Linked DNA regions of Homo sapiens: regions 2 and 3 are each reported to be linked to region 1. Evidence: microRNA targets listed by miRTarBase, many of them from high-throughput screens and not tested one by one. Region 1 holds a microRNA gene; each other region holds the end of a gene's coding sequence.
What was found. Region 1 holds the annotated microRNA hsa-miR-6838-5p (AAGCAGCAGUGGCAAGACUCCU, at 2,255-2,276, opposite strand). A microRNA usually pairs through its seed, bases 2 to 8, with sites in the 3' UTR of a target mRNA and lowers its output. Matches are read on the target gene's strand: a 7mer-m8 pairs with bases 2 to 8, a 7mer-A1 pairs with bases 2 to 7 and ends in A, and an 8mer does both.

Region 1 (3,148 bases):
CAAAGTGCTGGGATTACAGGTGTGAGTCACCATGCCTGGCCAACAATTCCATTTTTAAAAATGAGACTTGAACAGCCACTTCACCAGTGAGGACATAGAAGCCAGTGAACAGATGTTCAACGTTATCAGGCATTAGGGAAATGAAAATAAAACCACAGTGAGCTACTGTTATGTACCTACTACTAGAAAAGCTAAAGTTAACAAATACTGCAACTATCAAGTGCTGACAGGGATACAGAGCAACTGCCTACTGTGGTGTTTAACTTACAGGGGTGCTCACAACGCTGGTGGACTGCAAAATGACAGACGCACTCGGGACAACAACTTGGCTCTTATGAAATAAACATATACTTACCAAATGACCCAGTAATCCTGTGCCTATTTACCCAAGAGAAATGAAGACCCATGTGTTACACGAAAACCTGTACATGCATGTCTGTAGCAGTACGATTCATCATCTCCAAACCCTGGAAACAACCCAGACTTTTTTTCTTTTTAGGCAGACTCTTGCTCTGTCGCCCAGGCTGGAGTGCAGTGGCACAATCTCAGCTCACTGCAACCTTGGCATCCCAGGTTCAAGCAATTCTTATGCCTCAGCCTCCCGTGTAGCTGGGAATACAGGTATGAGCCAACATGCCCAGCAAATTTTTGTATTTTTTGTAGAGATGGGGTTTCGCCATGGTGGCCAGGCTGGTCTCAAACTCCTGGCCTCAAGTGATCCACCCGTCTCAGCCTCCCAAAGTGCTAGGATTACAGGCATGAGCCACGGCATCCGGCCACAACCCAGACATTCAACACCTGAATGGATAAACTGTAGAACACCCATGGCATGGAACAAATTACAAACTCAACATACCCAGCAACCTGCAGGAACGTCAAAGGCATTAGGCTGTGGGGAGAGGCCAGTCCAAAGGTTAAATATAGTTTGGTTCTATTTACATGACATTCTAGAGAAAGCAAAACTATAGGGATGTAGCACCGCTAAGTGGGTGGGGGTGGAGAAGCACATGACCACAATAGGACAGCATGGGAAGTGTTCTGGGGATGGACCTGGTGTGCCCTACGTGTGCAAAAACTGCACCCCAAGAGTCAACTTTACTGCATGTTTTCAAAATATTTTTTAATGTGATGAGTGGTCTGGGAAATCCTCGCCTAACAAAGTGGCTTTTGATTCAAGGCCTGAAGAAGGGGAGGGCCCACTCCAGGTAGATGACATGGCCAGGGCAAAACCTGAGGCCAGAGTGTGCCTGGGGATATGAGGGACGTGGAGGGCACCCATGTCCAGCCCACCTCAGTGCTTCTGCCTCAGTGAGAAGGGGAGGGAGTTGGCCACAAGGGGGCCTGGGTGCATCAAATAGGAAGCCGGTGAGTCAAGCAGCTCGGGGCCAGTGGGGCTGGAGAGATGCCAGAGCCAGGGGCTATGTGTGGACTTAGGGTTTGGAACCATTAAAGGGCTCTGCGACGGGAGTGGCAGGATATGACCTATTTTTGAGACATTGTGCTGAGAACAGGCCTTAAAGGCAGAAGCACAGAGCCTGGCTCGGGGCGCTGCAGTACTGAAGCCCCATAGTTGAAAATTATCTTCCTCCCAGCTCCTACCCAGGCCCTCTCCCTCTCCAGATGCCTACAGCACACCAGACAGTAGGCTCCTTGCTGGCACGAACCACAGCCTCCAGCTCATGGCTCTCAAATGCAGTGCAGGTATGCATGGTTCTCTTCTGGGCATTCTGGGCAGGGTGCCCTGCAGGAGCCACAGTTAACTGCAGTGCAACTAATGAGACACTGCACATCAGGGACCACTTGCCATTCATGACTGCAGGCCCCACCACAGCTCCACGATGTGGGCCCCACTCACATCCCATCCAGGGCAGGAACGTGAGCCATGGGGAGGCTAAGAGCAGACCCAGGGTCACACAGTGATGAGGCTGGCACTGAGGGCTCCCACCTCATCACACCCTGCAGCACACCAGCAGGGGCTCAACTGATCCTGCAGGCACAATTGACCTCCGGAAGAGCCAGGCCTTGGCGGGGAGGGGTGAAGGTGGGGGTCAGGGGGCAGCATATCTGCCTGGAGACATTCAGTGGCCAGGTTGGGGGCAGCCCAATTTCCTGAGTGGAAGTGGGGGACACAGGCAGGCTCAGGCGTTTCTCTGCTCTGGAGGAAGGTACTCAAGGCCCAGGTGTCTGAAGATGTCTTCCTCTGAAGCCGCTTGGAAAAATGTCTTCTGCAACAGAAGCAGGACTTCCGTGACCTAGGAGTCTTGCCACTGCTGCTTCCCTGCAGGAAGACTGAGGGTGGGGAAGAGCCCAGCGCCGAGGTGGGGTGTGCTCTTGAGGGCCAGGAACTGTGTGTGGAGACCCAGATTCGGGTCCTATGGGTTTCAGGCTGGAGGGGTCTGGGGCCATTTCAGATTGTGGGTCAGGGAGCGGACTATGGGTGCTGTTTGCTGTCCCCAGTCCCCAACAATGTACCTGCTCCGGGTCAAACAGCCCATGGCTGTTCAGCCACAGGCCCTTCTCCTTCCGGCTGAAGCGGCGCAGCTCCCGCTGGAAAAGCTGTAGGGAAGGGATTGTCCTCAGCAGGGCTGGCCCAGCCCCACCCCCAGGCGGCCCAGCGGCACACTGCCTACCTTGGAGCCAGTCCAACCGAGCAGGGCGAAAGGGAACTGGCTGACGGGTGCAACTACCAAGTCCACTCTCACGGCCTTCCAGGATGGGCAGGGCCTCGTGGATCCCCCCACAGCAGCCCCTGGAGGTTGTGGTAGGCGGAAAATGCAGAAACTTCTCTCAAAAGCGTCCATGTGGCTCTGTTGGGCCAGGCGGGTAGGGGACTCACAGCAGCTGTGCTGGTGCTGGTGGTACAGGATGAGGCCCTGTGGGGAGAGGCGGGCGTGGCTGAGACCATCCGGTGGTGTGGAGAGAGCAGGAGGCAGTGGCATTGGCCAGCGGTGGCTCTTGGGGAGCAGGGAGGCCCTCACCTGGTCCTGCAGGCGGCACATCACTCTAGGCAGCAGCCCCGCCTCCTGACCCTCCTTGGGGTGGGTGATGAGGAAGTCCACGTCATGGCCCTGCAACTTCCCCCTGAGGGCGTCAGTCTGACTCTGACTCAGGGACACGGCCTGCTCACTCCAGCCCCAGGCCACATCCC
Region 2 (3,000 bases), not on the chromosome of region 1:
GTGCACTGGCCTGAGGAAGCTTTGCACGCTGGTGCACACAGCCGGCACAGACAGCTGTCACACGCACAGATCACAGGTGCACAGAACGAGTGCTCTTTGTGAGCTGGGGTGTGAGGCCATTCACTTCTCTTTTAAAAGAGATTGATTTATCTAACTTTGCAGAAGTCAAAGAAAAAACATAAAAACATACTAGTTGAAAGAAGAAAGGGAGAGAGAACGGGAGGGAGGGAAATGAATGGGGGGCTTGTGTATCCTGAAATGGTACTTTTTACTTGCAGCTCTGATCAAAGGCCTGTCGTCCCTTCATCGAGGTCCAGGTTTGCCTTTTCCGTGTCTGTGCTGGACCTTGACCTCAAGCCCTACGAGAGCATTCCCCATCAGTATAAACTGGACGGCAAGATCGTCAACTATTATTCAAAGACTGTACGTGCCAAAGACAACGCCGTGATGTCGACTCGGTTCAAGGAAAGCGAAGATTGCACATTAGTTCTCCACAAGGTCTAACTCTTTCCCTGCAGTGTCTTTGAAACTTGAACATAATGTGAAGGCTGAATGATAGAGATATTTTCTGTTGTGTTGGGTGACCTTTGGTTGTGAATGTTTTTGCTTTTAACCCCTTTTGAGGTGGGATTGCCTCTTGGAGACATGGAATTGAAGAGCACTAGAAACAACTTCCTGGACAAGGAATGTAGGAAGTGAGTGCTGTGTCCCAGGAAGCTGCTCACACTCTTAAAATGGAAGTGTCCGTTAAGCCCTGGGAAGACGTTCTGGATAGTTCTTCTTTCCCAACCAGGGCTCATGTCTGATTCTCTAATGCGAAAAGCCTTATTCTAAGACCCAAGGTTTGGATCTGCTACCACCAGACTCCTAACATAGAAAACTTGAATTGTCACATACATTTTACAGTTTGGACTTTTAAGAAAACATGGATACTACTGGAACTTCCCCCAGCTGAGTTACATGGTCACTTTTTCAGTGCAAGCCACATATCAACACAGGTTTTTAGGTGGTTCCCTGCTGCACAGCGTGACCTCGTGGTCGCGCAGATGCCGATTCTGAGCAGTGTAGACTCAGGGTCCCTGTGGAGGTGCTGAAGCCCACAGTTCCACACAGGGCAGCAGGGAGCGCAAGGCTCAGGTCAGGATGGACACCACTCATGCGAGCATTGACCTTTTTTTTTTTGCTTTACAATTTAATCTTTCACATGAGGGGGAGATGAGCTGTTCTTTCCCACTAAAAATTGCTGCTGTAGAAGTTGGAGGTGGAGCTGTGACTGGCTGAGCTGCTGTGGCCGGGCTGGGCAGTGTGCCCCAACAGCTCAGTGCTTTCCTGACACTCCAGTGTCTGGGGTGGTTGAGGAGCGAGTTCTCTCTTCCTCCCAGACCAAGTTCCTCCCTCGGGTTTGCCTTGAGACGTGTTGCGTTTTTGGGCCCCGTGGCCTCTCCCTGTTAGGCTGCCACAGGCCCTGCTTCTGGAAGGTGAACAGCTCCTGGCTGCTGCCGAGAGGGTTCTCGTTGGGGTCACCAAAGTGTGCCCGGCTGCTATGAAAAACGTTGGGAATCTTGGTTTCAGTTTTTTATTCTATGCTAGGTTGTACAGACTTATTTATATCATCGTTTTGAGGGACTAATGGAGGCTTATTGTAACATATAATATTAGTGAAACCATGGAATTATATGAAAATGATACATGAGAAATAAGGAAACTATTTTGCTGATTGTAAATTTTTGTGGGAAATTTTGTGATAACTTGAGAATTATACTTGTTTGAATCAAGGCAACTCTTCTAGAATTTATTGTTCAATTCTGTCATATTTACTTCTAATTCTACTCTCAGAGGTGCAAAAAGATACTTATCTAACTGGACACTTTTACTGTTTTCTTCTCACTTCCAATGACACCGTCTCATACACACGGGTCCTGTGTGCTGGGATGGGGGCTTTGGTGAAGTGCACGGAGCTCACGGACAAGCCGCAGGCTCTGGGAAGCGTGGAGGTAGTGGCCGTTGAGTACTGTCTTGACCCAAGGGAGTTCACTGTTGCTGGGCTGGGGCTGGGGCAGCCTGGTTTGGGATGATTTTGCCCATTGTCACGGTGTGTGGAGGATGCTGGGTCCTGGGTTCAAGTGCACATGTGAGGGAACCCCAGTCCGTGGGAAGGTGGGCTGGGCTCCCTAGGTCCTTCAGGGCTGCAAGAGTTATTGCCTAGCACAGGGCCCAGACAGGGCTGGACTAGACACGATGAAAACAGCCTGTATTTGAGGGAGAAGAGAAAACAGATGGAGACCCCCACTCTGTCTGGTCTTGGCTCCCACCAGCCCGGGCTGTGAGGAGCCCCTGAGCCGCGGGTGCCACTGCTGTGGATGCGTTTCTGGCCCGTCTTGGAAACTGCTGCTGCTGCGTAGTCATGACGGCCCTGACTGGTTTGAGACAACACGCGTTCACAGATCTTAACAATGCTAAATGGGCGACTGATGAGGTCACGGTTCTTAAGGCACATCCGGGACGATCGATATAGCACTTAGGCTATGCAGGGGGGTCTTTCTTTCATAAAGGACCTCATTCCTTGCGTCCCAGCCCAGGAACAGTGCTGTCTTTGCTGTCTTAGGCCATTCTTGTTATTAAGCTGACAGCTTCACTTTCTTGTGGAAGACCAAGAACAGCATGAGGACTTGCTGAGACTGCCTCACGGTGCCACCATGCGGACCGGGGGGAGGCAGGGAGTGAGGGTGTGGCTCCCCTGGGCTACTAAGGACAGTTTAAAGATGAGGCGCCATAGGCATCCGTCTCCAGAGCCCCCAGGAGGCAGGAACCAGGATAAGGGTGGCTTCTCCCAGCTGAGTAATGTGGCCACCATGTCCAAGGTGGACTCGGTGTGAGGCTGCAGTGGGTGGGGGATGGATCCTCCCCACACATCTGAGGACACACAACCACTTGGTACATTTTCTCAGATGTTAAGCTTATTTTTATAAACCACATTGTACGTGTCACTTTTATTTGGCA
Region 3 (3,000 bases), not on the chromosome of region 1:
GGCATGTCAGGCCTTAAGCACAGGCCTGGTTGGGTTTGGGGGGTCTGCAGTGGTGGGGGACCCTGGGGGACCAGGGGCTCATTCTCCCCCCCACCTTGCCTGCAGCCCAACTGCTATGCCAAGGTGATCACGGTGGAGTCACAGAAGAAGATAGTCATCTACTCGAAGCAGCACATTAACGTCAATGAGGAGATTACCTATGACTATAAGTTCCCCATCGAGGACGTCAAGATCCCCTGCCTCTGTGGCTCCGAGAACTGCCGGGGGACCCTCAACTAGGCCCCGGCACCAGACTCAAAGGATGTCAGCCGTAGCCCTGGGACTCCCGAGCGTGGAGCCCCTGGCCCCGGGGCCCGGCCCCCCGCGCCCGCCCCCATTTCAGGTGCTGTCCTCTACCCAGCGGCCATTCAGGGCCTGGCGCCCCACACTACCCCCTGGAGCCCCTGGCTCCGGCCCCTCCGCGGGAAAGGGCTTCTCTGTCGTTCAGCCCACGTCTCTCTCATTTTAACAAACGCCCCTTTCAGGATTTCTGTTTAACTCCAGCATCAGCTTCTCTCTCTCCGTCTCTCCTCCCCTCTCTCTCTTCTCTGTCTCTTCTCTCTCCCACCATCACCCTCGGCCTCTTCCTGTGAATGCTGCTACGTTGTTTTGTCTTCTCTATTTTTTTCCTCGTTGTGAGAAAAGACATTTAACCGTTGAAATGTGAAGGTGGAATCAGAGAGGGGCCCCGCGGGGGTCTGCAGAGGCCTCAGTGTGGCTGTGCGTGGCCCGTGTCCTGGAAGCCACCCGGACCTGGACGCAGGGCCAGGTGCTGTGGGAAGGATGGAGGCCCCCACGGCCTTGACCTCAGAACACTACGCCCTGAAAGCGCCCCTCACTGCCCGTGGGCACAGTGAGGAGACCCCACACCTTTCCCCACCCGAGCTGCAGCCTGTTCCTTCCCCAGAGGCCTGGGGCACCACTGACCCGGTGGACCCTGATGGAGCTAAGCTGTCCCAGGCAGGGGTCTCCGCTCTGGGCTTTCCCTGCCACCTCACACCCCAGCACCCCCTAAACCTTGGGTTCAATGTTTACTTTCTCATTCGGATGCCAGCAACGCGGGAGCCTCTCGGAGGCCCCAGTGCAGGTGAGGGGCGCTGAGAACGCGGGCAGCCACTCTCTTCTGCCCTTGCCTTCGCCCTGGGTGGGACAGGGCTCCCAAGGGCAGGCGGGTCCCCCAGTCCCGCCATTACGGGTTGTCAGACCGTCTGCGTGTGGCATTTTTTGGCTTATAAGCTTCACCCACTCACCCCCAACCCACACCCCACATCCCCCTGCCGGCAGCCCCTCAACCTAAGAAGGCCAGAGCATATTTATTTTCGGAGGGAGCAGATTACTTCTCCCAGAGAAAGGAAAATCTTGGAAAAGATTTAAAAACACAAATCTAAGCCTTGACGGTTTTTTTTTCCCTTTTGACCCCCTTCCCATCTCTTCAGAATTTATTCCCATGGCTTTTTTTTTTCTTGTGCGTGTATAAAATCAAAAGGAAGGGGAAAAAGGTTTTTGAAGTTCAGAACCAACTTCTGTATATAGAGGCTGCCGCAAAGGACTTTCTCTTGGGAACATTGTTTCTTGTAGAAACATGCGGGAAGACATTTTTTGCTCATTTCTTTGTACTTCCAAAAAAAAAGGAAAAAAAAGACAAAAGCAAGTCCCCCCGTACCCCAGAAAGCAGAGGAGGCGTGTAAATAATTTCTGGAAAGTGACTGTTGTGACCCGGAGTCCTCATCAAGATGAGCGCGCTCCATGAGGGAGCTGCTCCCACCCTGCGGACGCAGGCGGCCGGAGCCTCTGGTATCTCAGCTTGTGTCAAGCTTGTTATCATGTAAATTCTGTACAAAGAATTGTTATTTTTCTCTTTTTTGTTGTTGGTGGTTTTGTTGTGTGTTTTTTGTTGTTTTTTTTTTATTCCTTTCCCCCAGGCCCTCTCTATTTGAGACTGTGCCCGCCGGTTTCAAGATCAAGGAAATTGGTGGCAACAAGACACAGATGGGGTACCTGGGCACAGCGGCGAACTTCTCTTCCGTTTGCGGTTTTCTGCCTAATTGTGCAACTGAGGAAATAATTTATTTTTCACATGAGGAAATGCGTAGCTTGTAGAGACGGCTGATTCAAGTTACATGTACAGCCTCCAAAGGGCTGTCTCCATTCTGTCCCCTTCCCATAAAAGAAGTGGGGGTGTTCGAGAAGACCAGGGAAGGGACCCTTGCCTCACCCCTCCCCCTGGCCTCACCTTGCTCCCAGCCATCGTGCCCAGTGTTAACCTCGGCTGGCCTTCACTAAGGGGACTAGACCTCCCTCTCCCCAGGAGCCCCAGCCCCAGAGTGGTTTGCAATAATCAAGATATGTGTCGAGTCATTTTTCTTTCAACTCCCTCATTTTTCATTGAACAAATCTCTGCTTTTCAAGAGTTGGGGGTTTCTGCTATTTTTTGCTTTCTCTCCCTCCCCCTGCAAAGATGAGAACCAATGAGTTTTAGGGATGTTTGTGCGGGTAGACTCCATCATCCATATGTAACTTGTTTTGAAGAGAAGTGTTTCCGTTGTGTGTCTTGATGTAAATATTTGTTCATATTTTTGTGAATTCAATACTATGTACCATTGTATTATAGTAACTTTTATAAAGCAAACCATAAATATACTGACTTTTCTTACAGATACGCCGTCTCTCTTGCTCTCCTCTCTCCCTCTCCTCTTTATTCTTTCTTTCTGTTGGGAGCACATCCTGCTTCTGTGGAGGGTGGAGTGGTCCACTCAGACACTCAGATCAGCAGGGGTTTTTTTGTTTGTTTTTGAGACAGGGTCTCACTCTGTCACCTCAGGCTGGAGTGCAGTGGTGCAATCATGGCTCACTGCAGCCTTGACTTCCTGGGCTCAAGTGATCCTCCCACCTCAGCCTCCTGAGTAGCTGGGACTACAGGAGCACACCACCATGCCCAGCTAATTTTTAAGAAATTTTTCT

Region 2: the mRNA of IPPK is a reported target of hsa-miR-6838-5p. Seed matches in the 3' UTR shown: 7mer-m8 at 1,242-1,248, 7mer-A1 at 1,538-1,544, 7mer-m8 at 2,387-2,393 and 7mer-m8 at 2,390-2,396.
Region 3: miRTarBase lists SETD1B as a target of hsa-miR-6838-5p. Seed matches in the 3' UTR shown: 8mer at 634-641.

The regions. Positions count from the first base shown.
Region 1 is chr7:44,071,153-44,074,300 of GRCh38, forward strand. MIR6838 (microRNA 6838) reads right to left here and starts at 2,281; the gene lies at 2,226-2,281. It overlaps POLM (DNA polymerase mu), which reads right to left. Exons shown (of 11, transcript NM_013284.4): 8 at 2,979-3,081; 9 at 2,631-2,873; 10 at 2,473-2,556; 11 at 910-2,225. The coding sequence ends at 2,139. RefSeq lists an enhancer at 2,947-3,146.
Region 2 is chr9:92,613,336-92,616,335 of GRCh38, reverse strand. It overlaps IPPK (inositol-pentakisphosphate 2-kinase), which reads left to right. Exons shown (of 13, transcript NM_022755.6): 13 at 279-3,000. The coding sequence ends at 504. CENPP (centromere protein P) reads right to left here. Exons shown (of 8, transcript NM_001012267.3): 8 at 1-3,000. Among named protein-coding and RNA genes, the nearest start is that of IPPK, 55 kb to the left of the region's middle.
Region 3 is chr12:121,829,961-121,832,960 of GRCh38, forward strand. It overlaps SETD1B (SET domain containing 1B, histone lysine methyltransferase), which reads left to right. Exons shown (of 17, transcript NM_001353345.2): 17 at 106-2,696. The coding sequence ends at 279. Among named protein-coding and RNA genes, the nearest start is that of TIALD, 25 kb to the right of the region's middle.